2 separate regions of the Homo sapiens genome follow, and region 2 is linked to region 1. Evidence: fine-mapped QTL for protein levels in blood plasma. A gene starts in region 1. The other region holds a variant in brackets. All regions are shown on one strand. Distances are from middle to middle. Region 1 holds the start of CNTN4 (contactin 4). Region 2 holds the start of CNTN4-AS1 (CNTN4 antisense RNA 1).

What was found. PIP is the posterior inclusion probability: the model's chance that the variant is causal. Protein levels are from the aptamer-based SomaScan assay of Sun 2018.
Region 2: its variant is fine-mapped to the plasma level of the CNTN4 protein (Sun 2018, PIP 0.95).

The regions. Positions count from the first base shown.
Region 1 is chr3:2,091,566-2,106,786 of GRCh38, reverse strand. CNTN4 (contactin 4) reads right to left here and starts at 7,921. Exons shown (of 25, transcript NM_175607.3): 1 at 7,809-7,921; 2 at 6,148-6,229. LOC124909338 (a long non-coding RNA gene) reads left to right here and starts at 8,532. Exons shown (of 2, transcript XR_007095785.1): 1 at 8,532-8,640; 2 at 8,829-9,206. RefSeq lists an enhancer at 11,358-11,965.
Region 2 is chr3:3,048,254-3,063,474 of GRCh38, reverse strand. CNTN4 (contactin 4) reads right to left here. Exons shown (of 25, transcript NM_175607.3): 24 at 9,500-9,668; 25 at 5,516-7,355. The coding sequence ends at 7,255. CNTN4-AS1 (CNTN4 antisense RNA 1) reads left to right here and starts at 2,330. Exons shown (of 4, transcript NR_046554.1): 1 at 2,330-2,408. The variant C/G (reference allele first, on the strand shown) is at 7,118.

The DNA.
Region 1 (15,221 bases):
ACCCATTTTCTGGGGAGAAATTCAAGCCAGCTGCAGAAATTTGCAGAAGTAAGGAGGAGCCAGGACAATGGGGAAAACGTCTTCAGGGCATGACAGAGATCTTGGCGGCAGCCCCTCCCATCACAGGCCCAGAGGTCTAGGAGGGAAAAACGGTTTCTTGGACAAGGCACTGGGCTCCCTGCTGTGTACAGCCTAGGGACTTGGTGCCCTGCGTCCCAGCCACTCCAGCTGTAGCTAAAAGGGGCCAAGGTATAGCTCAAGCTGTTGCTTCGGAAGGTGTAAGCCCCAAGCCTTGGCAGCTTCCACATGGTGTTCGTCCTGTGGGTGTGCAGAAGACAAAAATGAAGGTTTGGGAACCTCTGCCTAGATTTCAGTAGATGTACGGAAATGCCTGGATGTCCAGGCAAGAGGTGTGATGAAGGGGCAGAGCCCTCATGAAGAACCTCTGTTAGGGCAGTGCGGAAGGGAAATGGGGGTTGGAGCTCCCAACACAGAGTCACCACTGGGACACTGCCTAATGGAGCTGTGAGAAGAGGGCTATGGTCCTCTAGACTTCAGAATGGTAGATCCACTGACAGCTTGCACTGTGTGCCATGAAAGCAGACACTCAACTCCAGCCATGAAAGCAGTTGGGAGGGGAGCTGTAGCCTGCAAAGCCAGAGGGGCAGAACTGCCCCAGACAGTGGGAGCCCACCTCCTGCATCAGCATGACCTGAACTTGAGACATAGAGTTAAAGAAGATGATTTCGGAGCTTTAAGATTTAATAACTGCCCCGCCTGGTTTCAGACTGGCATGGGGCCTGTAGCCCCTTTGTTTTGGCCAATTTCTCCCATTTGGAATAGGAACATTGACCCAGTGCCTGTACTCCCACTGCAACTTGGAATTAACTAACTTGCTTTTTATTTTACAGGCTCATAGGTAGAAGGGACTTGCCTTGTCTCAGATGAGACTTTGGACTGTGGACTTTTGAGCTAATGCCAAAATGGGTTAAGATTCTGGGCGACTGTTGGGAAGGCATGTTGAAATGTGAAAAGACATGATATTTGGGAGGGGCCAGGGGCAGAATGATATGGTTTGGCTCTGTGTCTCCACGCAAATCTCATCAATTGAAAGGTAATCCCCATAATTTGCATGTGTCAAGGGTGGGACCTGGTAGGAGGTGATTGCATTGTGGAAGCAGTTTCCCCCATGCTGGTCTCATGATTGTGAGTTCTCATGAGATCTGATGGTTTTATAAGGGGCTCTTCCTCCTTCACTGTCTCTTGCCTGCCGCCATGTAAGACCTGCCTTTGCTTCTCTCGTGCCTTCTGCCATGGTTGTAAATTTCCTGAGGCCATGCGGAACTGAGTGAATTGAACCTCTTTCCTTTACAAATTACCCAGTCTCAGGCAGTTCTTTCTAGCAGTGTGAGAATAGACTAATATACCAGGTTAACTCACTTTAGGCATAGCCAGATTAACGGGCTCACATGATGCAAGAGGAGCTGGTTTTGCTCCATCATGCCCCTTGCTACTGTTCTGTTGGCTTCATTCTCAAGTAGTATGTGGTGACCTCAGCAGGTCTAGGTTCTCTTTTTGGTGTTAAGACAGCTGCAGCAGTGGCAGGCCCACATGCTCCCTGGTTCTAATCTCCTTATCTACAGGAATTAGTTCAAAGGCATACATGGAGCCCAACTAGAGCCACTGAGAAAAAGCAAAGCATCTCACTGCAGTGGTTCTCACTGGGTCCATGCCTGTTCTGTTCTAGAAGCAATTACTGTGGACAGGAAAAGTCAATGCTCTTCCCGACAAGACCTGGTTCCCATGCTCCAATCCTTAAATGGGAAACGGAATCCCACCCAGACCATATGCACTAAGAATGGGATAGTAATAGAGGTCAAAATTAAAAGGAAGCAAGGCAATGGGCATTTATTTGGCAAATAACCAAAATCCATGCTCTCTTTTCCCCATACCTAGAGAATTAGCTGATTTTCTCACATGCTTTCATTGGAAACCTGTGACAAAGACTGGCTAGTTATTTACCAAACCTGTTTTCCTTTCACCCTTCTCCCCCAGGCACTCAGCTAGACACCACTTCTCAGCTTCCCTTGCAGCAAAGGATGTCGAAGTGACTGAGGTCCACCCCAGAGGAATGTGGGCAGAAGTCATGACAACCACTTCCAGGCTGTGCCTACAACAACCTCCAATAAGACTTCTCTGGATTATTTATCTCCTCACACTCTGTATCTTGACTGAATGATGAGGACTCTAGGTACTTAAAGATGAACAAAGCCATAAAACTCTAAGGAACCTGATTCCCTGAATGACCCCATGGACAGCCACTCAGTCAGGATCTATTCTATGAGTACTGAACTACCACACATGAGCAAGAAGTAAAAAGTTAAAATAAGTCACTGAAAATTAAGAGCTTATCTGCTCATGTTAGCCTGTTACAAGGCCCTGTGGAATTTGGCTGAAAACATGACAGTAAGCACATGAAAACCTCTCCAGCCCTCCAACCCCATTAAATCATAAGAAGGGACTTGAAACGCACACACACACACACACACACACACACGTAGACATAAATGGCACAGAAGTGGAAAAAATTGGAAGAAAGAGGAGTTCAGAAAAAAAAGCAAAATTCTCAGGATGTGAGGCTCAGGGAAAGTAAAGAGGAAATGAACAGGGGCTTCTGGGAAAGAAATGACTGGTAGGTATACAGTATTTATGCCTACCTACATGGTAAGAAGATACATATCATTACCTAATTGTGAAGATGCAACAAATACATACTGAACAAGAGGAAAAAAATCACTCTTTAATGTTGAAACAATAACTATCTTAGCAAAAAGTATACGCTTACTATTGACCACTACACATTTCCACTGCAGCCACTGGGAACCAAAACTCTAACAGGCATTTTTATGAAAGACAAATACATAGGAAACATAAGATGAGGCAGATTCTCTAATGGAAATGGGACAACAGGATGAGAACAAGAGGGACCATTTTCTTTTAGACGGTACCTGGGATATATATACAGTCCCCTTAGTCATATAGAAAATAAAGATAAATAAATAGATAAATAAAAAATAATTTTGCAAAGCTCATAGGAAAAGAAGAGGGTTTCCTTTCTTGGAGGATGGGGATATTGATAAAGAGCAATACCTTTGATCAAAAGTTAGGAGAGGCTATTTTAGCTGAAAAACCTGCCAGGGAAGATATTTGTTTCTGCTGAGAAGTGAAGAGGAATTTATCCTCACATACTGAAGCATGAAAGTGGTAGCGCAAGACTCCCACAATAGAATCTTCAGAGGAAGGTTATAATTCAAGGCACAGACCCTGAAAATGTGTTTATCACAAATGAAAGAGCAGTTGTAGTGGTGAAGGGTGTGTAAGTGGGGGGAGTTACTTTAAATATCTGCTCCTGATCCTGGTAGGTATTCAAGATAAAGCTGTATCATATCTAATTCCATTCCAGTATGTTTTGGATTATATCCTTTTTTTCTACTTTAGTATTTTAAAAAATTCTCTTGGCAACTTTTTTATATATAGGCAAAAGTAAAAAGCGGTCCAGTGGCTTAAATAAGAAAAGTATTGAGGCAAAAGCAAAAAAAAAAAAAGCTGTTAAAAAATCAATTCTGGAGTGAGAGAACCTGGTTCAGATCCCAGCTCTGCTACTTACTAGCTATGATGAACAAATAACTTAATTTCTCTATGCCTAGTTTTCCTCATCTGTACAATAGAGATAATATTAGAAGGGCAAAGTAGGGCAATGTGCTTTAAAAAGTATCTCAATAATAGTAAGCATTATGTATGTATTAACTGCTTCTATTATTATTTATTGTATCCATTCCAGTTTTTCTACCAGAAAAAAAAAAAAGCAAGGGTTAGGAGAAGAAAAGGAAGTAACAGTTATTGAACATGGAAGAAATATCACATATAGTAATAAAACATCAGAGAATGCTAGTTGTTCCCCCAACAATTTCTTCTACTTCCTGGATAACATTTCTAGACTATATTTCCCAGCCTCCTTAATAGTAACGTACATCCACAAAGAACTGGGTTCTGGCCAGCACAATGCAAGGAAAAGTAATATGCACTCATTCCAGTTCTGGGCAATTAACATCCTCCCAAGTCTTCCTCTTTCCAATGGCTTGATGCAAGTAAGCACAGTGACCCTGCTGAAGACGGCAAGGGCACAGAACAGATGAAGGCTGGGTCTCTGAATCACACTTTGAAGGAGTACTGCCATGATCACCCATTCTGGGACTTCACACAACCGAGAAATAAATATATTTCACATCTGAGGCAGTATCCCTTTTGGATCTGTTATATCTGCTAAAGAGCCAATCTAAAAGAGCCAAGCTCTTGACCCATGTTGACTCATGCTCTCATGTTTAATCCCTATCGTGATGCCGTGAAATAGATGTTATCCCAATTTTATACCTAAAGAAACTAAGGCTCACAGAAATTAAGGAACTACATTGCCCAGGACTGTAAATGTAATAAATGATGGTGCCAGACTTAGATTCAGGTTAATCTGCTTCAAGGTTTATGAACTTTCCAGCCTCCACACAACACTGCAATGTGGAAAGTGTCCTTCCAATCCTCCCTCATTTACTCCTTGGATTCTTCACTTCCTGACCATTGGTACTTAGTCTTTAAACTAAAACTCCATTTTTTAAAATTCACCTGTATGTCTACTTTGGGAGATCTAAGATGACATCTCCAAAACACATTCATCCTTTACACCTCATTCTATCCACATATGAGTCCATGAGAGGAAAACAAGTGTGCTTAATCTATTTGTTACAGAAGATATAGAAGTGTAGCAGTTTTACAACTGGCTAGAGTATCAGAGATGATGAACAGCAGAGCAGAGATAAGGAGAGAAAGATTTTAAAAATATCAAACCAGCAGTGATCTTTAAAGTGTGCTACACACCCCAGGGGCTGTACAAAATGATCCACCGGGATACATAACAGCAACATGAGACCTTCTATTTCATAATTTTTGCTTTATTCATCTTTTTTGTTTCTTTGTGTGTTTTATAAGTAGTGTATCATATAACAGCATGTCTTCAGTTTATAAATAAATTTTATTGATATGTTGTCAGATTTCTTCTGATAGTAAATAATAATAATAATGAAGATCAATAAATCTAGGCAGTAAATCCTGCCTCCTTGCCTCCTTCACTAGGCTTAAAACATAGCATTACAGGGAAAAATGAACAAAAAGGAACAAAAAAAATCAGTGTGTAGAGACTTCCCCCTGCCTATCATATGAAATAGACTTATTCAACTAAAATAATATAAAAGCAAGTTTTTACAAAATATTAATTTTTAAGATAAGAGAGATTGAAGCTAATGCATATTATGTCTGTCCTCAAATATAACAAAGAAGAAACAACAAGTTAAAATCATGATCAGACAAACTTGTAGAAAAGTCAGTACCATGCATGGGAATTTTCTGCTGAGCAGCTTTATTTTTTTAAGACCTAAATTGAAGGAACGGATGCCCTGTATACATTTCAGAAGAAAAACTGCAGCCAAAAGATTTAGTGCTTAGATCGGAAAAGAAATCAGAAGACCTACTTTTGAACAAAAAGGAGAGAGAAGTAGGTAAAATAAGTGAATGATAAAAAATCCAACATCATTTGAAAGGTTTGTTCTCTAATCACTCTTAATTACCTGCCAATATGAAATGACCATGGAAAAAGGTACTGCATTGACTCCCAATTGACTTGAAAAGTTTTACAACTCAAAGAAACTGAAAAGTGTTGTTTAAAAAACTGCAAATAGGAAAATCTACCTCTGTTGAAACTTACATGTGGCTCTGACATGCACCCTTATCCAAGTCACTTCTCTTAGACTCTTAGTCTTTAATTGAAAAGGTCAGTTTTTCCATCCTTGCCAGCTACCTCCCAGGGTTCAGATGGAAAAATAATGACGTTTATCAGCATCATCTCTCCTCAACAAGACAGAGCAGTTGAAACCAGCTTCAACAAACAAATCAATAGCTATTTTATAAGGTAGCAAAAATAATATTCTCATGAAACTTGTTTTTGATCCTTAGCAATCTTACCTACTCCTGCGACCCACTGCAGATATTCCCACAAAATCTTTAAAGAAATCAAGATAAAAATAGCAAGAATAAACTTACGGGTAACGTGAATTTTCTCATGAATGCCACCCAAATCACCTCCAGGTGCCTGTCTTCATGACACACTGTTCTTTTTCACCCACTTGGGTAGAGAGAGAGAAAGAGAGAACAAACTTGCTATTAGGCAGACTTGGGAACGCTATTGTATGGACCTGCTCATAGGCAACCTATACAGTCTTTACGCTCCTACCCCACTCTCTAAAGGACATAAACCAGAAATCTCAAAAAACAAAAAAATACAAGCGCGTTCCAAATTATCTTGTGTGGGTATCCAAACGACTCAGTTATGTGGAGTTACTCCTTGAACTATCCAGCTCCCACTACAGAAAATTGAAAGAGCTTCCCATGCAGTTAAATGCCACTGTTATTCTGACAAACATGTGCCCGCCCCTATGTTGATTCCAGCAGGAAAACTAGAAAAAGTTCCACGACATTCCTTTCAGGAACTCCTCTTACAAATAAACCTCCAACACACCTCAAGATCCGGCCCACTCTCCTCCACGCAGACCACACACCCAGGGTGCTCAGTCACACTGACTCGCCCTACACAACCTCCGCCAGCTTCTTCGCACCGAATCTGCAGACCCTGGCCAGCAAGCAACCGCCTGATCTTCCCGACGCGCGAAGCCGCCTCCTCGCAGGAGCTTCGCTGCGAAATGTTTCCATGCAGCCGACTCTCTGGCTGGTTCAGAGGGATTCAGGAGCCCACGTCCTCCTACCCTCACCTCCACACCCTTCATAAATAGTAAAACATATACACGAAGCACAAGAGAGAAAATGCACGAAGATTTTGAGCCCCGCGTTCCAGAAGGAGAGTGAGTGGATTGGGGTCTGTGGGGCGCCCGGCGCACAGTTCGCCGCCGTCTGGGCCCGGGGAGGGGACGGGGCGGTTGTCTTGCCTCTCGAAAGAAACTGGAAACCCCCCAGAAGTTGCTGGAAACGAATGCCACCCAACAGGCTCCCGCGGCAGAGACTGGGGAAGCCAGGTACCTTCCCTAAGAGCAGGCACCTGGCCTGTCGCTCGCCGCCGCAGCCTCAGCGCTCAGCAGCCAGCCCGGCACCCAGCGGGCGCCACAGACATCAGCCTCCGTCTCCACGCGGCTCCTTCCACCACGGCTACGGGCTCCTGTTCCTTTAGTCCCAGGTCCCTCCACTCCCCAGGTTCGCGTCCCTCTGCTGCGGGCTGTGACTGGGCTGTCAGAAGAAAAGCCCCGCCGGGAACCCGGCGCCAGAGGCCAGGGCGCACGGAGAGGGGGCAGTAGCCCGAACCAGTCGGAGGAGCTGACTTGAAGGCTTCCCGCAGCATTCCGGGCTCTCGGTTCCTTGTTTTGTGGCTGCCTCGCAGCGCAACAAACTTATTTTCCGGCTGAGAAGGAGAAGAAGGGTCGCTGTGGGGTGACGGTGGCGTCGTCGGGGCCCTGAGTCCTCCGCGCTCAGGCGTTCAGCTCCCGCTCCCCGACCCTGCAGGGCTTCCGGGCTCTGAGCTGGACGGCCCCGCAGACGCTGCCCGGCCCCGCGGGAGTCAGAGCCCCGGGAAGCGCCCCTGTCCTTCGGGCAACCCGCGCGGACCCTGCCCTTTCCCCCCCACACCCGCGACCGCGTCCCCGGGGCATCGCGCGCCCACGCAGGAGCCGGACCCGCACAGCTGCCGCCTCACTTACCTCAGCACCGGGGCGCCGGGCTGGCGAGAGCCTCGGGTGCGGCGCCGGCACAGTCCGAGGGGCCCGGGGCGGCGGCGAAAGCTCCCTACTTGCAGCCAATCCTGGCGTCGAACCCCGGGCTCCGTCTGGCGCGGCGCTGCCCTCCCTCCCGGCGCTCGCGGCGGCTGGAAAAACCTGGCGCGCCGGAGTTCGGGCTGCCGGCTCCTTAGCCGCGGGGCGGGGGAGACGCTCGGGGAAGGGGAGAGGCGCGGGCGGGTGGGAACGGGCGGGAGACGAGCGGGGACGGGGAGACGCGCCGGAGGCCCGGAGCCCGCGCATGCTCAGTGCGCGGCCGGAGGAGGCGAGCGCTGGGGACGCAGCACCTGCCCCGCGCGGCCGAGAGGCGGCAGCCCCAGGTCCCCAGCGCGCGAAATTAGTAAAGGGCGCCTGGCCCGATTCTCAGGCAAGAGGAGATTATCAGCCGGATTCCCGTGCGGGGACGTAGGGGTTGCGTTGTTCAGCGGCCAGGGATGCGCCGAGGCGATGTCTCCTCCCTTTACAACCCGAGTATCGGGGCACGAGGAGGCGCGACCTTCCTGGGTACCCAAACCTCTGGCCTCCGGGAGACGCGGAATTCGGGGGATCGTTAAGGCGCCCTGGCCAGGGAAACAGATGCTTCTGCGTCTGGGCTGAAAATTGCTGAACCGGGGAATGTGGGTGGGCGGGTGGCATTGAACTTAGGCCAGAAGAGGGGGCTTTGGTAGGTTTTTACCTGCCTGTCCTTAGGCGGAGGACACTGGCTGGACAGGCTGCGTTACACACCTGAAGTCTCATCCACGCAAAGTGCTTTCAGGTTGGAATGTGGGGCGGGGGCGGGGGGAGGTCAGAGGGAACAGTTGCTGTAAATTAGGTACAAGGATCAATTTGTGGTGTGTTGTGCGCGGGGGTGGGGCATGTCGAAAGCCTTGTTATTCGAAAGAATGTGCTTTGAACGACGTTGCCACGGTCATTCTACATTATGAATCTACTGTTTCCTTGCAGAAGTGGCTCCCTTCGCCGCAACTCCACACCTCGGGGTAACCGTAGAGATTGGCAGCAATGCCCCAGCCCCTCACCAGCACTGTGCAAAGTGACTTTGACAGGCAGAGAAAAGCCAACCCAGTCGAATTCGTCTGGAAAGCATTCCAGCAACCCAGAGAGGAGCCTCTGTTTCTCTCTCTGGGAAAAAGCCCCAAGGGTTTTGCTGAACCCAGGTCTTCCTGCTCATCTCTCAGCAGTTCAGAGCTACATAAACAACTTCTGACCATTTACGCAATCATGTAAACCTACCCTGACATCTCCACTATGTGGAAAAGATGTTAACTGGAAAACTATTTTTAAACTACTGCAGTAAGCAAATAAACATCCAACTCCAACATATATATGCAGCAGCCTTATTAGTTCATTCAGTGTTGGTTTGGTTTGTTTGTTTTGTCTTCTGCTTTTTAGAATTAATTATTATCTTTATAATTCCTGTTCGAGAAGTGGGCAAAACCAGGCTAGTGATAGGTATTGTTGTGGTCAAATTTTTCATCACTTGAAATTCCATGACTTTCATGATTGCTGAGATTAATGCTAAATAAAGAAGTTACCCCCCCGCCCCCACCCCACCCCAACCTCCCCACCAAAGTTTCCTGATTACTTAAACTTGGAGAGAAATTTTCAGGCTTTTTCCTCCCTCCTTGCCTGGTATGTGTCTGTAATAGAGGTACTTTTGCAAAACTGGAATGTTGGTGATGCAGGTGTTTTCCATGGTAAACAGCCACTGAGGATCAATGGTTCCCAGGTTCCCACTCACTTTGAAGGCTTTTGTGCTTCTGCCGGAACTGTGACTTTTACTACCTGTACTATGTATGATTTTTTTTTACATTGATTATTTCTCTGCAACTAGTCAATTAAAAGTACATATATATAACTTTTAGTAAGACTGTTTATCAAAATATGCTTCACCAGAAGTTCTCCAGAAAATATTCCTGTGTAGTCATGCATACTCCTAACACATTAAAGGGAAATGTCGTGTTTTAGACTGGACACAGAATTTCAGAAAAGAACAAAGAATAAAATATGCTGTCACATTCTCCCACTGGGACTATACATTGAAGCAATTTTCAAAGTTTTATGACAATTTCAGGCAAAGTCCCTTAACTGTGTTTCTAAATTTCAAATGTACATATTTTGTTTCCATTCTCCCCTTTGGCCCTTATTCTGTGCCTGCTATATGCTAGGCATTGTCTTCTAGTAGATTCTGGGAAACAAACTAAACATGACCAAGACTTGCTCCACAGTTCACCATGTAGTTAGGAAAACAGACATTGTGTATCTGGAGAGACAGATTTGGGTCGTGTTGAGGGGATATCAGTTAAACGTTAAGTTAGGAGGAGGCATTTTTTCTTTTCACCAACACACCCCCACACTGATCCAGTGCTAAGCTTGTTCAGTCCCTCCCCAACATTTTCTCTAGAACAGCAGCTAGTTTAAAATGCAGCCAATAATCCAGTCCCTTTTTTCCATCCTGCAGCAAAGAAGCGATGCTCAGCTGCCACCTCTGCCAAGATAGAAAGCCTCTTGCGGAAGCTCCCAGGATTGGGGAGTGTTCCTAATAGACTCAACCCCTGTCAGGGGACAGAAATGGTTTATTTTGATGACAACAGCCTCACACGTGTGTCTCTACATATCCAGGACCCCGACTGCGTGTCCGTTTCTTGATCAGGGGACCTGTGATTGGGATTCTCTGGAGGGGAATGTTCCAAACGAATCAATTAACGCCCCCAGCAGCAAGTTCAATACCACTGCACTGAGACCCAGCTCTGTATCATTGCATGAATGAATTACTGGTGCTCATGTAATTTGCAAATAATCATCATTCTAACACAGTGGAAAATTTCTCCTGCCCGTTTAGCCTGAGTAGCAGCTGAGCAGAGAGCTGCAATAACCCTCACAACACCCTCCAAAATAACTATTTACACATATGTGAAGTTTTACATCCAGGTCTTTTAATATGGGAGTATCTACATAGACACAAGGTCACCTCTTACACTCATTAAACCAATTGAATGAGGACTGATAACTCTTAAGGGAAATCAACGCTGAAACCGCTTTTGACTTTTTGGAGACATGAATGGAATACATCATCAGGTTTTACTCAGCATGCAACCGTTGTGCAAACTCCAGAAAGGGCATCTCTCTGTCCCACTCCCCCATTACCCCTGCCTTATTCCTTCTCTACACATCTGAAGATTTGATAAGTGGGGATTTACTGTAAGAGGAGGAAAGAGGAAAAGCATCACAGGAAAAGAAATACCTCTTTTCTGACCACATCTGATTTGATGCTATTTTCTCCTTACTCCTGGCATCCAGTGGGATTTTAAAAAACTCATATATGCCACCTTTCTTTGTTCTAAATGACTTGAATAAGGTCGTTCAATGGCAGGAGCGACTCAATCAGATAAAAATGTGCAGGTTTTATAATTACGGTTTTACTTGTTTAATGTATAGCTACCTGAATAGATCTTCAAGCATAAAGTAGCAATTATCCCATCCCTGATTTTAAAATATAAACTCAAGTTTGCTTTAATTAAGTAGATAAATCAGTATTTAAATAAACAATTGTATCAAGAAGAGCTTTGTGTTCAGTTTCGAACTGGAGTATAATAAAGTAGAACTCAGCTAAGGACTTTCAAACCAGCCTTGCAAAGCTTCCTTCTATGCAATTGTTTTAGGTGACTGATTGACACTTAAGCTTTAAACTAAGGACATTGGACTAATAATGGGCCCATACTGGGATAATGATAATTAGCACACAAAAGCACAGTTAATTGCCATGAAGGTTGGACACAGACTGACAGATAGAGTCAAAGTAAACTAGAAACCTGACACCCCAGCCAAGATTCCTTTATAAACGTGGCTGTGAGACACCCACTGAATTTAAACATAATAAGGTGGAATTAGGGACCAATCAACTGTTTTCTTAGCCACACGTTTTCCAGATTTTTTTGGATTCTTTATACAAAATCCAAAAATAATTGTTCCAAAGGTCTATTAGTTGCAAAAGTATTTATAGTTGATTTCTGATGTCCTCAGTAATTATGTTCTATAAAGTCACTGCAAACACTGGAGACAATAAAGGGTTATGTTCCTGACAGCCTCTGGTAACAAGATTTTCATCAACTGATAAAGATACCTTCTTTAATATATACTGTTGATTCATTAACATAGAACTCATGGCCTGCAGCACTGTAATTCTTGCCTGAACAAAACTTATCTAACACATGTATTTTCTCTGTGAGGCACATCACAGCTTTCTTTTGCTTAGGAATGCTAGACAGCACTCCAGCACTGTGCTCGAGGCCATTTTAAGCAGCAAAATCACCAACAGAAAAACCCAAAATTTGAGAAACATGCACTAAATATACTGCAAAAAGGAGACTTTTTTAGAATATGAGAGCTGAAACAAGAACACAGAGCATCACTTTGTTTGATCTAAGCTGGGAATGTGTGCATTGGGCAACTACAATTTTTATTCTCTGTGCATCTACAAATACCTCTGTGCGTCTACAAGTGTCTACTCAAGTGCCTTAAGTATTGACTTTGGAGTTATAAGTAAATTTCAGTAAGTGGGCAAATTCACAAATATGTTATCTGTGAATAATGAGGGTCAACTGTACCAAATGTCTCCTTTAAACGGCCACATCCGCCCATATGGTATGCGATTCAATTTAGAGACATTCAATTTATACAGAATTCATCAAATCATTTATCTTTTCATCTTATCCTAAACAATTTACATTGTATTCACATAACTGTAATTACATATTTTCTTAAATATTTTCATTTTGTTCATGTTTTTAATATCAGTTTCTTCATATTCAATGTGTCCTGAACTTTTCTCTATCATTCAATAGTTATATATCCCCTCACTTTTAAAAGCTGCTTAATATTCCATTTCAGAATATACTACAGATAATCAGTTCTCTATTGTTGAGCATTCAAGTTGTTTGTGTTCTGCTATGATAAATAACTCATTGATAAATACACTGATGTTAAATTTTACACACATTTTAAATTATTAACTCAGAATAAATTCCCAGAACTTGATCTACTAGGTCAGAAAGGGTATTAGTCCATTTTCACACTTCTAATAAAGACATACCAGAGACTGGGTAATTTACAAAAGAAAGAGGTTTAATTGGACTCACAGTTCCACGTGGCTTGGGAAGCCTCACAAGCATGGCGGAAGGCAAGGAGGAGCAAGTCACATCTTACATGGAGGGCAGCAAAGACAGGAGAGAGCTTGTGCAGAGAAACTCTGGTTTTCAAAACCATCAGATCTGGTGAGACACATTCACTATCACAAGAACAGCATGGGAAAGACCTGCCTCCGTGATTCGATTGTCTCCCACTGGGCAGCTCCCGCAACACATGAGAATTATGGGTGCAGACAGGGAGTCAAACCATATCAAAAAGTCTTGTGACTTTCCTCATTCATAATTATTAGATTCTTTCTGGTAGATATCCATGATCAACAATTAGAGGTAATGAGGGCTCTAGGCCTCATCCTCATCACCCTCAAAATAATGTAGTAAATTGTAAGAAGAGATAATTCAAGGCTAAATTCTGCACACATAACAACATAGCAGACATTAAAAAGCAGCTATTCAAACTGTAAGCTCAATAAAGTCCCAACTCCTCTGTCCTTACAGTTTCTCCAATAGCCTTTTGAATCAAAGATTCACCAGAGGCAAATGCGACAATATTGCAAGGGCAGGATTCAATTAAAGTCTTACTTGGAGTCAGGCAAAAAAATCCTCTGAAAACTGCTCAACACAGAACTGATCGGAATCAAAATCACAAAACATCATTCCTAAGATTATAAGTTATTCGGCTCACCAGATTTTCCTTCTGTGCTATGCAAGGGCAAAACTCACTGTGCAGTATTTCTAGCCAGACCCATATCTTAAACACCAATCTTTTCACCAGAGAAAATAATCATTCACCAGTGATAATAATCATTGCTATGTTCAATTGTGCCAATTAGCAAGGCTTGTATTGTTGATAGTAAATGCTGTTAATTGAATCTCAAGAGAGTTTCAGATAAGACGTTTACAGATGCTACCTGCCCTCTGCAATATGTATTCCTGATTAGGGCTCTGCAAATGTTAACAGCAGTACCCTTACAGGTTAAAAACAATACACACGAAAACACATGCACGCACACAGCCATCAGCCATACATCACACTATATATACCGTCTTTAAATAAATTAAATGCAACATGGAAAGGTTATATATGTTTTTAATATGATATTTATTCATTTCGCCAAAGTTTGTGTCAATTTACTCTCTCATCATAGTGTATTTTTTCAGTTCTTTGCTGAGTATTGTAAGTTTATTTATATATTTTCTAATTTGTGGACATAAAGTGTTTCTTGTTTTCCTTTTTTAAAAAATTCTAGTGAGGTTAAAGATTTTTTTATGTTTATGTGTTATATGCATTTTATGAATTGCCTCTGTGTTCCTTATTCATTTATTTGAGTTTTCATCTTTATCCTAGAGATTAGTCAAAGATTTCAGAATATTTAAGGTAGTAAACTTTTATCCGTTGAAAATATTTCTTTCTATTTGCCTTTTAACTTTAGAAATCTGTACTCCCAGCACTTTGGGAGGCTGAGGCAGGTGGATCACCTGAGGTCAGGAGTTTGAAACCAGCCTGGCCAACATGGCGAAACCCCCTTCTCTACTAAATATACAAAAATTAGCTGGGTGCGGTGGTAGGCACCTGTAATCCCAGCTACTCAGGAAGCTGAGACAGGAGAATCTCTTGAACCCGGGAGGTGGAGGTTGCAGTGAGCCGAGATCATGCCATTGCACTCCAGCCTGGACAACAGAGCGAGACTCCATCTCAAGAGAAAAGAAGAAAGAAAGAGAGAGAGAGAGAAAGATTTTTTACATTTTTATATAATCAATTTAGTAGTTTTTCTTTACATTTCTATCTTTGGTGTCATATATTTAAAGTATATTCTTGGGTTCTGACATATGGAATCAAAATGTAAGGAGTCCAGTGGACCCACTCCCAAGGAAAACAAGCTAAGTGGAGGTGAAAATTATTTAAACACACACACATTTAAAAACTCTGGAAGTGGTTTTAAGGACATATATATCAATGAAGAAATATTTATTCAAGAAAATCTAGTAAAACTCATCAAGAACGGTGAGAGTCTGTGGCATTTGTTCCACAACCTTCTCCCTGCCAGCTCAGCACGGCAGAAACTCCACTCCAGGTGAGCACAGCCAATAACATAGTAGTACCCTTCACTCCCCAGGCAACCCCAGAACCCAGTAAAGGGAATGTGGCATCTTTCTGGGAAGGACATGCCTTTAGCATTTCCTGTCCTCCCCA
Region 2 (15,221 bases), 960 kb before region 1:
AAGAGCAAAATTCCGTCTCAAAAAACAAACAAAAAAAAAACAAAACCTCTTTTCTGCCAGCTCTAAGAGGAACTTCACCCACCAGCCCTGTCTCTCTGGACACACACACATCCCATCCTCACACCATCCAAGGAAAAGTGGGAAGGAGAGTTCAGCAAACGAAACAGAACTCAAAACAGCAAACTTCATGTCTCGCCCTCAGAGCCATTGACCTTCAGAGATCTGACAACACATTCGCAAGACCCTGAAATTTTGAATTACAAATTAATTACTTCAATGAGAGTAATGAAGACCTCCTGGTGTCAGGTTGCCAGATTTAGCAAATAAAAATAAGAGGCTCAGTTAAAGTTGAATTTCAAATAAATATCACATGGGGCATACTTATACTAAGGAAGCATAATTTTTTTTTTATCTGAAATCTAAGTTTAATAGCTCCTCTCCTATTTTATTGGGTAATCCTGATCTTGAAGGGTAGCCGGAGTTTAAAGAAACAGCTCTAAGACACCTGAAGTCAAGGACAACGAACACGCAAAAAACAACATTTGCAGTCAAGGAAAGAGAAGCAGAGAAGCTGAGCCACTTTAGAGCAGACTGAAGCTCATGACTGCCTTTCCTTCTTGTTGCTATATGGGAACCGTATCTATCTGTCTATTTATCTATCTACCTACCTTATTGTTTATGTATCATCTATTTACAGATAGAGACATCTAATGTTTTGGAGTAGGGCCCTAAACCCAAGCCACCAGCATTTCAATTCCTGGTCTCTCTGATCAACTGTGTGATCAGGGACAAATGTGAACCTGTCAACCTCAATCCTCTGTGTATAAAATAGGAATAATAAATGGTAACTAAATCGGTAGGTTGATTTGCACTGAGTCTGGCACATATTATAAGCATAATCACTGTTTACTATTATTATTATCATTGCATTTCTCTGTATTGTGACAAAATACTGTTACTGGTGCCTTGGCTTCCTCACACACATCTGAATGCCACATCATTCTTCTATGCCCAGAATAGTGCCTGGTACAGAGAGGGCTGCCAGTAGTCCCTTGCTGAATAACTAAAACCCTCTCCAGGCACCTATCCTATCCCATTCCTCCAGATGGCTGTGCCCTGGGCCTGGCCGGCACTCAGAACTTCTCCACCTCCAGCATCTGAACCTCAGACATCTCACCCTTCTACCTCACCATTTCCTCTGGCCTACCTACTTGTCCTAGAATGTTCTCTAGTTGAACTTCAGAGTCTAGTTCCTTACTCCATCCTGTCCTTTCTCTAAGTACTTATTTCTAGGTGTATGAAATGCACTAATGAGTCTATGTTCTAAATTCTAGTCCTTCTTTTTTTTTTTTTCTTTTGTTTGAGACAGAGTCTCACTCTCTTGCCCAGGCTAGAGTGCAGTAGGGCAATCTCAGCTCACTACAACCTCTGCCTCCCAGGTTCAAGCAATCCTCCTGCCTCAGCCTCCTGGGTAACTGGGACTACAAGCACGTGCCACCATGCCCAGCTAATTTTTGTATTTTTAGTAGGAATGGGGTTTCACCATGTTGGCCAGGCTGGTCTCGAACTCTTGACCTTGTGATCCCCCCACCTCAGTCTCCCAAAGTGCTGGGATTACAGGTGTGAGCCACCATGCCCAGCCCTGACTTTCTAATTGTCTATGTTACTTTGGGCTTCTTATATAACCTCTTTGCTTCCATTTCATAAATAAAAAAGGAATAAAAACCTATGTCCTCCCCTTATTAGTGTGAAAAGCACTTTGAAAACTAGAAAAACAAATTAAAGATATTACTATTTGTTAAAGTCCTAGGACATATATATTTCCTGGTATAGTTCGTGTTATTCCTAACAATAAGGATATGTGGCAAAAACCCAGTTTACAGAGAATGGGGATATCACATGTAATTGCATCTATATTTAAGTAGCTCAGCCTTCCAATTTCCAGACTTTCAGATCGATCATATGGTTGACCTTTTTTAAAAAAAGCTTTCTCTCTATGTGATCTATATCACTAGAGCTCTGCTAATCTACCATGGCCCATAACTGCTTGTGATAAAGGATAGAGGCCAATTTTGTTTAAACTGTGATCTCTGTTGAGTATTGTAGTTTGCAGGTGAGTTGCAGAGCTGGAACATTTAATCCGCATGGCCCATTTAGCACAAGGGGAAACGGGGCCTCTTTGCAGAATGGGCAGCCTGACTTGCATTTACTAATCACACTCTGGCAGGGGGCCTGAGGAAATCACAGGAAACGGGGCCAGATATTCTCCTCCCTCTAGGTCTGAGATGGAGGTGACACAGGCCTTGTGCCTGGGAGCACAATGAGGAACCACACCCAGATGCCAACGCTGAGGTGCCGTGTGTCTACTATAAGGCGGAAGACACCAACAAAAATGATTTAAATATAAGGTACGAAGGGATGACTGACATGAGTGGGTACAGACCCCATCCCCTGGAGGTCAGAGAAATGCAAGGTCAATTTCAGATGGGGAAGCTGAGGGAGGCTTTGTGCAAAACCTGGCATCTGAATGGGAACCCTACTGCCTAAGTTTGAATTAGTTGATTGTATGATTAAAATTATCGAACATTAAAATTTATATTAAGAAGTGATCATGTTTAAATAAAAGGTGATAATGGATGTGTCAGCTGAGTTCCACTCATTTTGGTGATAAGAAGCATCCACATCCTACATCTGTGGGTCTAGTAAAGTCCCTGGAGAAAAAGAACAATAACAGACGGTAAAATCATCACTGTTTGGAGAGCTTTACAAACTTTATCCTCCCTAATAAGTAGCCAATCATTACAATGCACCCCAGGCAGTCAAACTCCAGGATCCACGTCCTTAGTCTTTGTATTAGGCTGCCTTTGTAAGGCCTCAGTGTCTGGCATTTTGTAATGGAAAAATCTGGGGTATGTCCACAGATTGAATATAAGTCCTTGATTTTAAAGGCTTGCCTTTCAAAGCACTATGGTTGGCCACATAACGTTTTTAGCCAGAACATTTTGTAAATTGTAACAACAGGAAAATAACAGTCACTTCTTGATTATAAGTGTTAACGGAGGAGAACAGTAGCATCGATAATCCAATGTAGTGAACAAAAATCACCTGTTGGTTGATTACATTAGATTAAAAACTGCATGACATTTTTGTTGCTAATTATGTGCTATTTGTATACTTTTTATAACTCAACATTCTTTGCGCATATTTGTAGTGAGGCAAGGTGGTGGAAGAGACTGGGTAAAGGTTAATCAGGATTTAACATTGCCTCCTGGATATAAACAACCACAATTTTGATGGTGGGAATAACACAATCATTCTTTCTTAATATCAAAGTCTATGCACCTTCTACCTCACAGGCTGGAAGAATTCAGAGCTTACCTGAGAAATGAAGCTTATCATCCATGTCTTCTGTGCCCATGGAAAGGTGCTGCTTTGTATGTAGCATGTGTGGGCTCCATAGAAAGTAGGTACACTGAGAGAATCCAAATATCTGGCACAATAGAATTTCCTTTCATACAGTTAAATCACAAGTGGACTACACACACAAAAAGGAGGGCAAGAGTAAGCACTTTGAAAGGTTAAACAAGCAAAGCAAATTTTCCTAGTGGTCCTCCTTCAGAAAAAAATCTCAAGCAGCAATATAGTCATTCCACTCGAGTGTATTACTTGGGCTAAGGGCCTAAGAAAGTCCCCTTGGCTGGCTAAGCCTAGAAAATCTGTTACTTATACCAACCCAGCATTTCTTCTCTTACCTTTGGAAAACAGCATCTTAGTTTTCCTTTAACTATCCCTCCCCTGTGAGTACAAGGTACTCTGGCTGTGGAACTCAAATGGAACTGATCACTTTCCCAGGAATCTGAATATTGAGCATAATGGCGTCAAAATTGGAAACAAAGCTGATTCATCCCCACAATAGCACCCCAAAAAGACTTTCCAAAGTTCCCATTGTCTGGACCCACAGAGTGGCCTGGTTCTTATTCTCCTCAAGAGTTGGTCCTTCAGTGTTTCCTTGGCTCATATGATGTAACCTGTGTCATTCTAATTCCTTACTTTTTGTTTGCTCAAGTTACCCAGGGTCGTTTCTTTGCTTACAGCCAGTGGACCCTACCTGAGGCAACCATGAAAGCCAACAAATGAGACAAGTTTGGGTGGAGGTGCTCATGGGGCACTTTCTAAAACATCTTCAATTCAGTTAGACTCAACTAATCCAGGACCTCATTTACCCGATGATGAAGCCAATTGGTCAAAGACTTCTTCCAGGTACAAAGTTAGAAGCCAGGCCTTTTAACGCTTTTCAGCACATAACGAAAGTAATGACACAGTCTTCCCTGGTTGGTTTGCTGTGGCACACAGGCAGGCAACTGATGCAAAATGCTACTTCAAAGACCCCTTCATTCAATTAATCAGTGAGTATTTATTGCAAGGCACTGTGCTAGGCACTATGGAGAGTACATGGAAGATAAGACCAAAGTCCCTGCCCTCAAGGAGCTTACAATCTAGTTGGGAAGACAAGCCATACATACAAGAAAAAGTAAGTAACAATACAGGAGTTAAATTAAAATGCAAGATAACAGTACAAGAGATTTCCAAAAGTAGTATCTGATTAATTACTAAATGAGCAGCATTGATAGGGGATGCAACTACTTCCAAGCGAGAATGTCATAAAGGACTGAAGCATGGGAAGTCTTTGCAGACAAACTGGGGCTGGAGCTACCCTAGGACAGCAGGGATCTGAATGGGAGAGAAGGGTGGAGAAGGCATTTCAGGAAGGGGCAGCCATAAGACCAAAGGCACAGAGGTGAGACCAAAAGCAAGCAGTGTTCAGGGGTCAGGGAGGGCTTACTGTGGCTGGATACACAGTTAAATCGTTTTGGATTAAAAAGGGCCTTAAGGGCCGGGTGCGGTGGCTCAAGCCTGTAATCCCAGCACTGTGGGAGGCCGAGGCGGGCAGATCACCTGAGGTCAGGTGTTTGAGACCAGCCTGACTAACATGGTGAAATCTCGTCTCTACTAAAAATCCAAAAATTAGTCCGGTGTAGTGGTGGGCGCCTCGGGAGGCTGAGGCAGGAGAATTGCTTGAACCTGGGAGGCGGAGGTTGCAGTGAGCCGAGATCGCAACATTGCACTCCAGCCTGGGTGACAAGAGTGAGACTCCGTCTCAAAAAAAAAAGAGCCTTAAATGCTCAAGCTTAGAACTTACCCTTTTAGCAATGGGGGGTGAGGGAAACAACAGATATACTTACAGTAAATATACAAAAGACTTAGCTAATCAAGAGAAAATATTCAAGTCTCATCTTCAGGACATTTACTTGTGGATTAGGACCCTCTCTACTTCCAAAGAGGATTTGAAATGGTGCTTCAGGGTTGTCAATTCCAAAGGAAAAGCTCTGGGTCATCTAGATTTGGGTAGAGACTTTTGAGTCCCTCTATGATCCCAAATTATAACTAGCACAAAGGTAAGCTAACAAATTCCCTGACAGGCAGGCAGGAAAAATGCTCCCGAAAGACAAGTATCTTTACAAATGACAGAATATTTATTAACAATACCTTTAAAAAAGATTACATATGCTAGATCACTGGTAAATATCATTTACACTGGGGTTGGGAACTCCCTGGGTGTCATTTTTTTTCGTTCATTTTATTATTTTGCTGATTTTTTTTTTGCATGTGATTTTAAATTTTATTTCAACATAGAAGTAACCATATCAAACTAAGAAAGGAACACAGCTTGAAATACTGACAATATTTTTTTCCGGTTACCACCCTAGTTTTTACACAAATGGAATCCCGATTATGACTTTATTGGATAAATATAACTAGAAGGTTGAAAAGTTATATTATTTGTAAGCAAAAATGACAAACTATAGCAAATTTGAGTTCTCTGAGAAAGAAGAAAAGGTGGCAGCATGTTTACATGAGAAAATGTTTATAGAAAATTCCATTGCCTTTTATGTCACTGTCCAGTAGGGTTTACTCACAAAACCTTTCTCATTGTAACAAATAGTTCTTTTCATAAGAATACAGTTTTGTTGATATTGTCATTTTCCAATGTGTGATTTTAAGACCTAGAAGGTAAAGCATATAAAGCAACTAGGCTACCTATTGCAAAACAGAATCATCAAGAAACCATACAATTGTACTAAAGAGCTTTTATAGAGTCATATTAAAAATTCTTGCAGCAACTATTTGTTGAAATAGGAGCAATCTTCCAAAGTCCATATGTAATTTTGATTCAAAAGAAGGGCTCTATTATTACAGAGATACACATATTATATATAAGAAATTTTGTAAAGAAATTACGAATCCATTGACAGAGAATTACTTTTTTTAAATTTACATTCAAAATAGATACAGTTAAAGATAATAAAATGATCTTTTATCCTTTGAAAGACTTGGTTGACTATAGTAACTTTGGGTCTATGTTACTACAGGATATATGTTACTTCAAATTTAATGTCTAAGATAATGCTACCACAAAGACAATGCTAACTCAGTTGAGTGAAAAGAAAATCTTCCTGTACAATGCTAAATTCAGGGATGGGAATATTGCACAAGGTGCCTCTTGGGCAGTACATTGAGCTTTTGAGATTGCAGCCATTCCTGAAACCATCTCAAGTTGGGTTGAACAACAAAATTCACAACGGCATGAAAACATACTGTACATGTCAAAATCACAACGGCATGGGAAACATACTGTACATGTCAAGTGCATTAACCACTAGAAGAGTAGTTTGCATACAACAGCCTTGAGTTACGGACCAAGTCTTCCGCTGTTCTGCCATGAGATCCTTGTAAAACTGTACGAGTAATTTGCAATTTATTTACCAAGATGAGTTTCAAACTCTGTCTTTAAAGGAAATATTTTCAAATTATAATTGCATGATTGTGTTGCCCATAGCATTTTACAGCCGAGGAAAAAATTAATATCTACATTATATGTTAACTTTAAAAAATTCTATAAAACACTAAATATATAATAAAAAATATGCATATAAGGACATATGTAAACTGCTTTGGTAACATCATATTACAGATGTCTTCAGTGCATTGCAGAGTTTCCAAAGAAACTTCAGACAAAGCTAGATTTGCTTTGAGGAAGTACTGTATAATGCCATTC[C/G]TAAAGAAGCAAAAAACATTTTTATTCCAGTAATAAGATGTACTTGAACAACAATATTACTTAGTACTGGGTGTCTTCAAAACAACTAGCTAAATGTTGCTTATATTATAAACAGCAAGTCCTTCAGATAACTTTTGTCATAAACTGGACCTAGCTGTGAGGGAAATCATTATTGTACTGATGGCTGACAGCGTACATGCATTCGAAGTGGAAGCCCCAGATCCTCTCGCGTAGGCATCTGAAAAGAGAGAACAAATTCACTCAAAACAGCCCCATCCCGGCTTCAAAGGGAAGAGGGGCCACGGGGCTTTTTGAAACAGCAGAACTGCATGGATTCTACTGGAAATGATGATCAAGGTCTTAATGGCTTTTAAATATCAGTTCTATGACTACCAAGCTACAAACCTGGGAGTAGGGTATAGGACAGCCCTGTACCTCTGTCAAAGCATTTGTAAAGTAAGGAGGTTCCTATCTAATGTGAGAAGAAACTTCAATATTACTAGTAACAATACTGATAAACAGCATGCTATGTCGATGATTCAACAAAATGAAAATTGCTGCTCCCTTTTGAACTCTATCTTTCTGCTGGGCACAGATGAATATGACACTTAAATCTTGCAAAAACTGGATGAAGGCCAGGTATTATTATTACCTCGCTTAACAGATGGCGGTAATTTGCGCCCAGAGAAATAAAGTAACTTATCTAAGATCACCCAGCTAGTAAATGGCTAAACTGGGGTTCAAACCCATGTCTGTCTAAATCTACCCCTTTTCTGCAAACAAAATAGCCTCAATCCTTTTTTAAATTTTCTTATGGGTCTTACACTTTTCATAGTAAGAAGCTATCAACTGTCATTCGGGGGTTCTTCAATCTTGTAAGGTCTCTTTGACCAACATGATGAAAAATCTCTTGAAACAGATCATGTTTGGTTCACAGTCACTTCCTTGTTATCTAATAATTACACCAATATAATTGCTTAATATATGTTTTTGTAATGAATAAAACCAGGAATCATCAGTCTATCTAAAAATGTCAATCCCTGCAATGATAAGAAAGTATGAAGTATAAAGTCAGATTTTTAATGAAGCGAGATAAGCCCCAATCTTGTATTTTTGTGGCCTGGAGATTTTACTTCCACATCTCACCAAAAATCTAGCTCCCTTTCGATAGAAGTTAGAGGCTTTGTTTGATAAAGTATAATCCAATTGTCCCCCTTTTAAGACAAAAATGCCTTTTGTGTTTGTATGCAAAAAAGATGCAGTAAATATAAACTCCATCCAGAAACACTGGCATATCACCCCTTAGCAGAGGGATGTCACATGGCTAAAAGTCAGGATGGTGGTGAGGATTTTGTCCATAATTTAAAATATCATCTTTTTACCAATGTCTTGAAAATTTATACCTCCAGCCTTCACTGCTCCCCTAATCTCCAGACTGAAATCTGAAAGCCTGTGAAAGTCTACACTTAGATATCTAACCACAGTCTTTTTTTTATTGCTGTAAAATACACATAACAAAATTAGCATTTTAACTCATTTAAAATGTACAAATCAGTGGTACTAAGTATACTCCAGTGTTGTGCAACCAGCACCACTCTCAAGCTCCATAACTTTTGTGTCACCCCAAATGAAGACCCAGTGCCTAAACCCCCATTCCCCACTGACCAGCCACTGCCAATCACTAGCCTCACTTCTGTCTCCACGGATTTGGCTATTTTGTTTTTTTTCTTTAAATAAATGAGATCACACACAACAACAAAAAAATCATGCTCTTAAGATACTTACAAACATGGTATTTGTAAAAACAGAATTGAATGTATTTGCTCAAAAAGAATATGCTATTCTCCCATGCTATTCAACAACATTTGAAAGTGAAGATAATCTTGACTATAGAGAGACATACACATTGATGCACATGTTGCATATACCCATTGAAAATAAGTAGTAAATTCCAAATATTTCCAAGATACTGAACTGCATACACTGTTTCACTGGAGAAAAACTGCTACGGCATACTTAACAATGCTTGTCCTTGTTCCTTCTGACTGAGTCAATGCTTTTCACTTTCTAAACTGTAATTCTGGGGCTACAATAGATGCAATGCAAACTACACAGGTTGACACGGAAAAACCTTAGTGACTAATTCGGGTCTGCTTTAATCTGATTTTTGATTAGCAACTGAGTAGATCAGTCAACACGGGCAAACTGATTTTTGCATGAAACTGCCTATGGCCAGCAAACATCTGGAGAAGGGGGGTAGTGTTCTCCATTTCTATTTTAAGTCTGCTTTTGCAGGCTGAATGTCTTTCAAGCCCTGACTCATCTGGAAGGCTGATAAGATAAGACAGGCAGGAGAAAAGGGAGAAAAAAAGGCATTCTCACTTGATATCTTTGGAATTCGAATTTGTTCACTGCTGCTGCCATCTCCTCCGTCGCTGAATGGCTTAATTTCTATTATATAATCTTCATCGAAAGGCAAAGAAAGCTCCACCGATGTTTTATTTGTTTCAATGACAGATGTGCTGCTTTGTCTGTTCCATCTGTACAAGACCTGCCAATACAGAAAGAACAGGTGTCACCTGCCGTCTTCACAAAGGTCCCAAATATGGAGCATTCATTTGTTTTCACCTCTGGGCACGAGCAAAATGCAGGGATGTAGAGGTTGTCTGGCTGCCCACTTGCATTTGGAAGGCTCATTTGCAGTGAGGGCCATGACTGCAGCTACCATTTTATTCCAAGGAAAGAGCTGAAAGGATATTATATCAGGGGCATCAGCAACGTGATTCTACCTACTGCCTAGCCTCTCGGAGGCTCAGTTGACACTCTTGGGAAAGTGGAAAATATGAGTAGCTCCTTAAGGATGTACAGTGCTCAGTTACACATCGGTGCTTTGGCATCAGAATAAACTTGGCCACTGTGGGATCACAGGCCACTTCACCTTTCAGAGCCTCACTTCAGTCATCTGTAAAAGGGGGACAATAATACCCAGTCTTCTGGAGTGTGTTTTCAAGATTGCACAAGGAGGCTGGGTGCAGTGGCCCATGCCTATAGTGTCAGCACTTTGGGAGGCCAAGGTGGGTGACTCACTTGAGGCCAGGAGTTTGAGACCAGCCTGACCAACATGGCGAAACCCTGTCTCTACAAAAAATACAAAAATTAGCCAGACATGATGGCACACACCTGTAATCCCAGCTACTCCAGAGGCTGAGGCAGGAGAATTGCTTGCACCCGGGAGGCAGACGTTGCAGTGAGCCGAGATCAAGCCACTGCACTCCAGCCTGGGTGACAGAGCAAGACTGTCTCAAAAATATAAAAATACAAAAGATTGCACAAGGTTTGAATCTGGTGATGGCCTAGCTTAGAGGAAGCATGTAAGAAATAGTATCTCTGAAGGCTTAAAGATAATCAGAGAACATACATGGCAAAGGTTAGAGCACAAGCCAGGCACAATAAGTTATGATCACGACTCTTAGAGACAGGACATTTCAGCACAGGGAGAAGATATCGGAAAGGCAAGAGTAGTAACCTCCCATTCCTTTCCTCTGGAACCCCACTTTATGGGGCTAGGTAGCCAAGAGGCAACCATTGTCACCCTGGACATATCTGCAGCTTGCAACAGTCCTGTTTTCATCTTGGGCCCCCCATGGGTTCTGAGTTTGGAGGTGGATTCATTTGATGAGGTGGCCAACTAGCCTCCTAAAAACACATTCACTTACCTGGGATTGCCTGCTGTGATTGGATTTACTCCAATCAGGAACAAAATATACAGGTCTGGGAAAGTGTGCCTTTACCTATAGAACCACTAAAGCTCATCCTCTGTAGTTTCCCCTGACAAAAAGATAGGGTTGGATGAGGTCAGTGGTTTTTGGTCCTGGCTGCATGTTAGAACCATTGGGGTGCTTGTAAAATACTTATGCTGTAGCTCAGTGGTTTTCAACAGGGTGGGAGGGGCAGGGGAGCAATTTTGCCTCACAGGGAGGTATCTGGCAATGTCTGCAGACATGTTTGTCAAAACATGTCCTCCTGTTGTAGTGGATAGAGAGACCAGGGATGCTGCTGAACAGTCTACAATGCACAGAGCAGCCCCGCAACAAAGAACTCTCTAGCTCAAAGTGTTGACTGTGAGGAGGTCAGTAACCCCGCTCCAGTTCCACTCTAGCCTGCCTAAGACTGCACAGAGGTGGGATCCATGCTGTAGTTGTTTTCTAAAAGATCATCAGGAGATGTTAATATGGGATAGGCATCATGATTAGATGAATTAGACGCGTAGTTCTCAAATTCAAGCGTGAACAGAATCACCTGGAGAACTTGTTAGAACACAAATTGCTGGGCCCCATTCCTGGAGTTTGTGATTAGTTCTGGGATGGGACCTGAAAATCTGCATTTCTGACAAGTTCCCAGCTAATGCCAGTGCTGATGGTCCAGGGATCATGCGTTGAGAAGCACGAGATTAGCTCATCCTTCCCTAAGATCCCTTATAAATTCTGATCTGCTGAGGCTACAGACATAAGGTCACTCTTGTGTCTCAAGACAAAACCAGACACAAGTGAAATTCATAAAATTCCTTTAGAATGGTTTAGAACCCATCTGTTCCCTGGCATTTCATCACCTTAATTTATATCTCTCTAACACAAGGTGGAAAACACAATTTCCTTAAGGTAGAAAGATTCATAAGTGTCCCCTTCTTCTCCGCAGCATCAGTTGTATCAGACCCAGCATCCCCTTGCTGATGATTAGGCACAGATAAATCCTCAGGCACATTCAGGAGTGTCAAAGCTTCTCATCACGGCCCTCCAGGAGAATGGGCTGATGGGATGCAAGGTCACATCTGGCTTTGAGGAATAAATTGCTGCTTTGATTTACCTCTGGTCCTTGCAAGAGCTCAGAGGATTCAACTTGTTTCAAATATAAATCCAAAAGAAACACTTCCAGGAAAAAGCAGCACTTTTATCAGCACTGCTTATCAGTCTTGCAGTATTATGGACTGCAGCAGAACCCAAATAAAGTCCTGTAAAGCCTTTATTTACACCAAACACTTGCTTGAGCTGATTGAAGGCTGTGCTTGCATTTGATATAATCTAGGGTGGAAGACAAGGGGAAAGAATGGATTTGTGGGAATAATGATAATAGCAAATATTATAGACTACTTCCACTATTTAATGTCTGAACACTGTGTGTTCTAAATCAGGGGTGTCCAATCTTTTGGCTTCCCTGGACCACACTGGAAGAAGAAAAATTGTCTTGGGCCACACATAAAATACACTAACACTAATGATAGCTGATGAACTTTTAAAAAATTGCAAAAAACATCTTACGATGTTTTAAGAAAGTTTATGAATTTGTGTTGGGCCACATTCAAAGCCATCTTGGGCCACATGTAGCCTGTGGGCTGTGGGCTGTACAAGCTTGTTCTAAATGCTTATGTGGATAACCTCTTAAGGAAGGCAATGTTATTATTCTGATTTCAAAGATGAGAACTTGAGATGTGGAGATGTGAAGCAATTGCCCGGTCTCATGACTGGTAAGTGGCGGATCCTGCATTCAAACCTAGGCAGTCTGGCTCCAGAGCCTGGATTTTTTTTTTTTTTTTTTTTGAGACGGAGTTTCACTCTTATTGCCCAGGCTAGAGTGCGATGGTGTGACCTCAGCTCACTACAACCTCCGCCTCCCGGGTTCAAGCAATTCTTCTGCCTCAGCCTCCCAAGTAGCTAACATTACAGGCATGCGCCACCATGCCCTGCTGATTTTATATTTTTAGCAGAGACGGGGTTTCACCATGTTGGTCAGGCTGGTCTCAAACTCCTGACCTCAGGTGATCCACCCACCTCGGCCTCCCAAAGTGCTGGGATTACAGGTGTGAGCCACCGTGCCCGGCCTCAGAACCTGGATTTTTAACGAAGACTACCTTGGCTACCACCTGTAGGGCTCTGGGCAAATTGCTTTCCCTCTCTGGCATCTGTCTTTGGGAACACAAACCAAGGGAGTTAGACAGCAAAAAACTAGTGGCCCATGGGTCATAACCAGCCTGCATATATTATTTGTTTGGCTGTCATAGTGTTATTTTTTTTGAGTTAGACATGAACATTTAAAAACCGAGAAATTAGACATTAAAAATTTGTGGGTTCTACTGAAAAACTGGAAGATATGGCCACACTGGTTGCTATGCTTTGGATGCTTGTCCTCTCCAAAACTCATGTTGAAATTCGCCATTTTAACTGTATTAACAGGTGAACCTTGAAGAGATAATTAGGCCATGAGGTGATTAGGCTCACCCTCACAGATGGAATTAGCACTGTTGTAAAAGGGCGAGTCAGCTCTCTATCCCTCTCCCTCCCAGCACTGGGTGTCAATAAACTTCTGTTCATATTAATTGCCCAGTCTCAGGTATTCTGTTCCTGAGTAAGACTCTACAAAAGTGCGATCCAGAATAAAATAGACTAAGCCAGTGATCTATATTCCTGTCTGCCAACAACTGGTTGGAGTTGAGAAGTCTCATTCTGAACAATCACAAACTCTGCAGTTGGTGATAGTCCCAACACTTCCAATGTTGCTACATTGTCACATGCCTACCTCTGGACCTTTGCACTTCCTTTTTTGCAGTACTTGGGACATTCCCAGAGAGGTGCCAAGGCCCAACTGAAATCTCACCACTTAAAAGTGGCTTTCCTTGGCCTTTCTATAAAATAATACATCTCTCCTGTCCACTCCATGGCTTTCTCTATTCCCCTCACTCTAGCCTCTTTTTCTCTGCAGTACTTTGTTATCACTTATTCTATTTATTTATGGCTGGTAGGCAGAAGCACCAAGTGGCTAAATGTAGAACTCAGGATCCATACTGCTGTATTCGGATCCCAGGTCTTCAACATACCAGCTGTGTGAAAGGCAAGTGACTAAACTCTATGCCACAGCTCTTCATCCGTAAAACTAGCAATAATAACTGTACCTATCTTCATGGTTATTATACAGTTAAGATGAGGCCAGGCATGGTGGCTCATGCCTGTAATCCCAGCACTTTGGGAGGCTGAGGCAGGCGGATCACCTGAGGTCAGGAGTTTAAGACCAGCCTGGCCAACATGGTGAAACTCCATCTCTACTAAAAATACAAAAATCAGCCAGTCGTGGTGGTGGGCGCCTGTAGTCTCAGCTACTTGGGAGGCTGAGGCAGGAGAACTGCTTGAACCCTGGAGGCGGAGGTTGCAGTGAGCCAAGATTGTACCACTACACTCCACCTTGCGTGACAGAGGGAGACTCTGTCTCAAAATACAACAAAATAAAATATAAAGTTAAGATGAATTGGAACAGTGCTTAGTAGACGTATTAGTAGTAGTTTCTGAATGGACTGAACAGAACTCATTTATGTTATCTGCCTGGCCCTGCAGGTAGTTTAATTTGTGATACTAAAACCAGATGCTCTCCTTTTAGCTCTAATGCCATAAAGTAGCTTAAGGATTTGTGTTGACAAAATATTTGGGGCCTTAAACTTTCTAAAGTCAGCTTCTTGTTGAGACTGTCTACCTAAGCTGAGATCTAAAGAATTCAGACAACTTAGTGAAGAAGGGAAAATAAACCCACACCCCAACATGTTCAGTATTTGGGAGGAAAACTTAATTTTGGAAAGGGTCAGTCTGAGATAAACAATAGCCATATTTAATGGGTCAAATTCTCTAGCAAAGGTCAACTCTTCCGTTGCAATCAGATCCGCTTTTTATTCAGCCTCTAATCTCACCCTAAAAGTGACACTAGGGAGAGTTTCCTGAGCTATCATGGGACGTGAGATATCACGGGAGGTACCACACATACACACACACAAATACACACACACACACACACACACACACACAGAGAGAGAGAGAGAAAGAGAGAGAGTTATTCATTGGTACCTTGGTAATTCAGGGAACTGGCTTCAGGACCTCCCTAAAATACCAAAATCTGTGGATACTCAAGTCCTGGATATACAATGGTATAGAATTTGTGTATAACCTAAGCATATCTTTCCGTATACTTTAAATCAACTTTAGATTACTCATAATACCTAATATAATGTAAATGGTATGTAAATAGTTGTTATACTGTATTGTTTTTAAAATCTGTGTCATTTTCATTG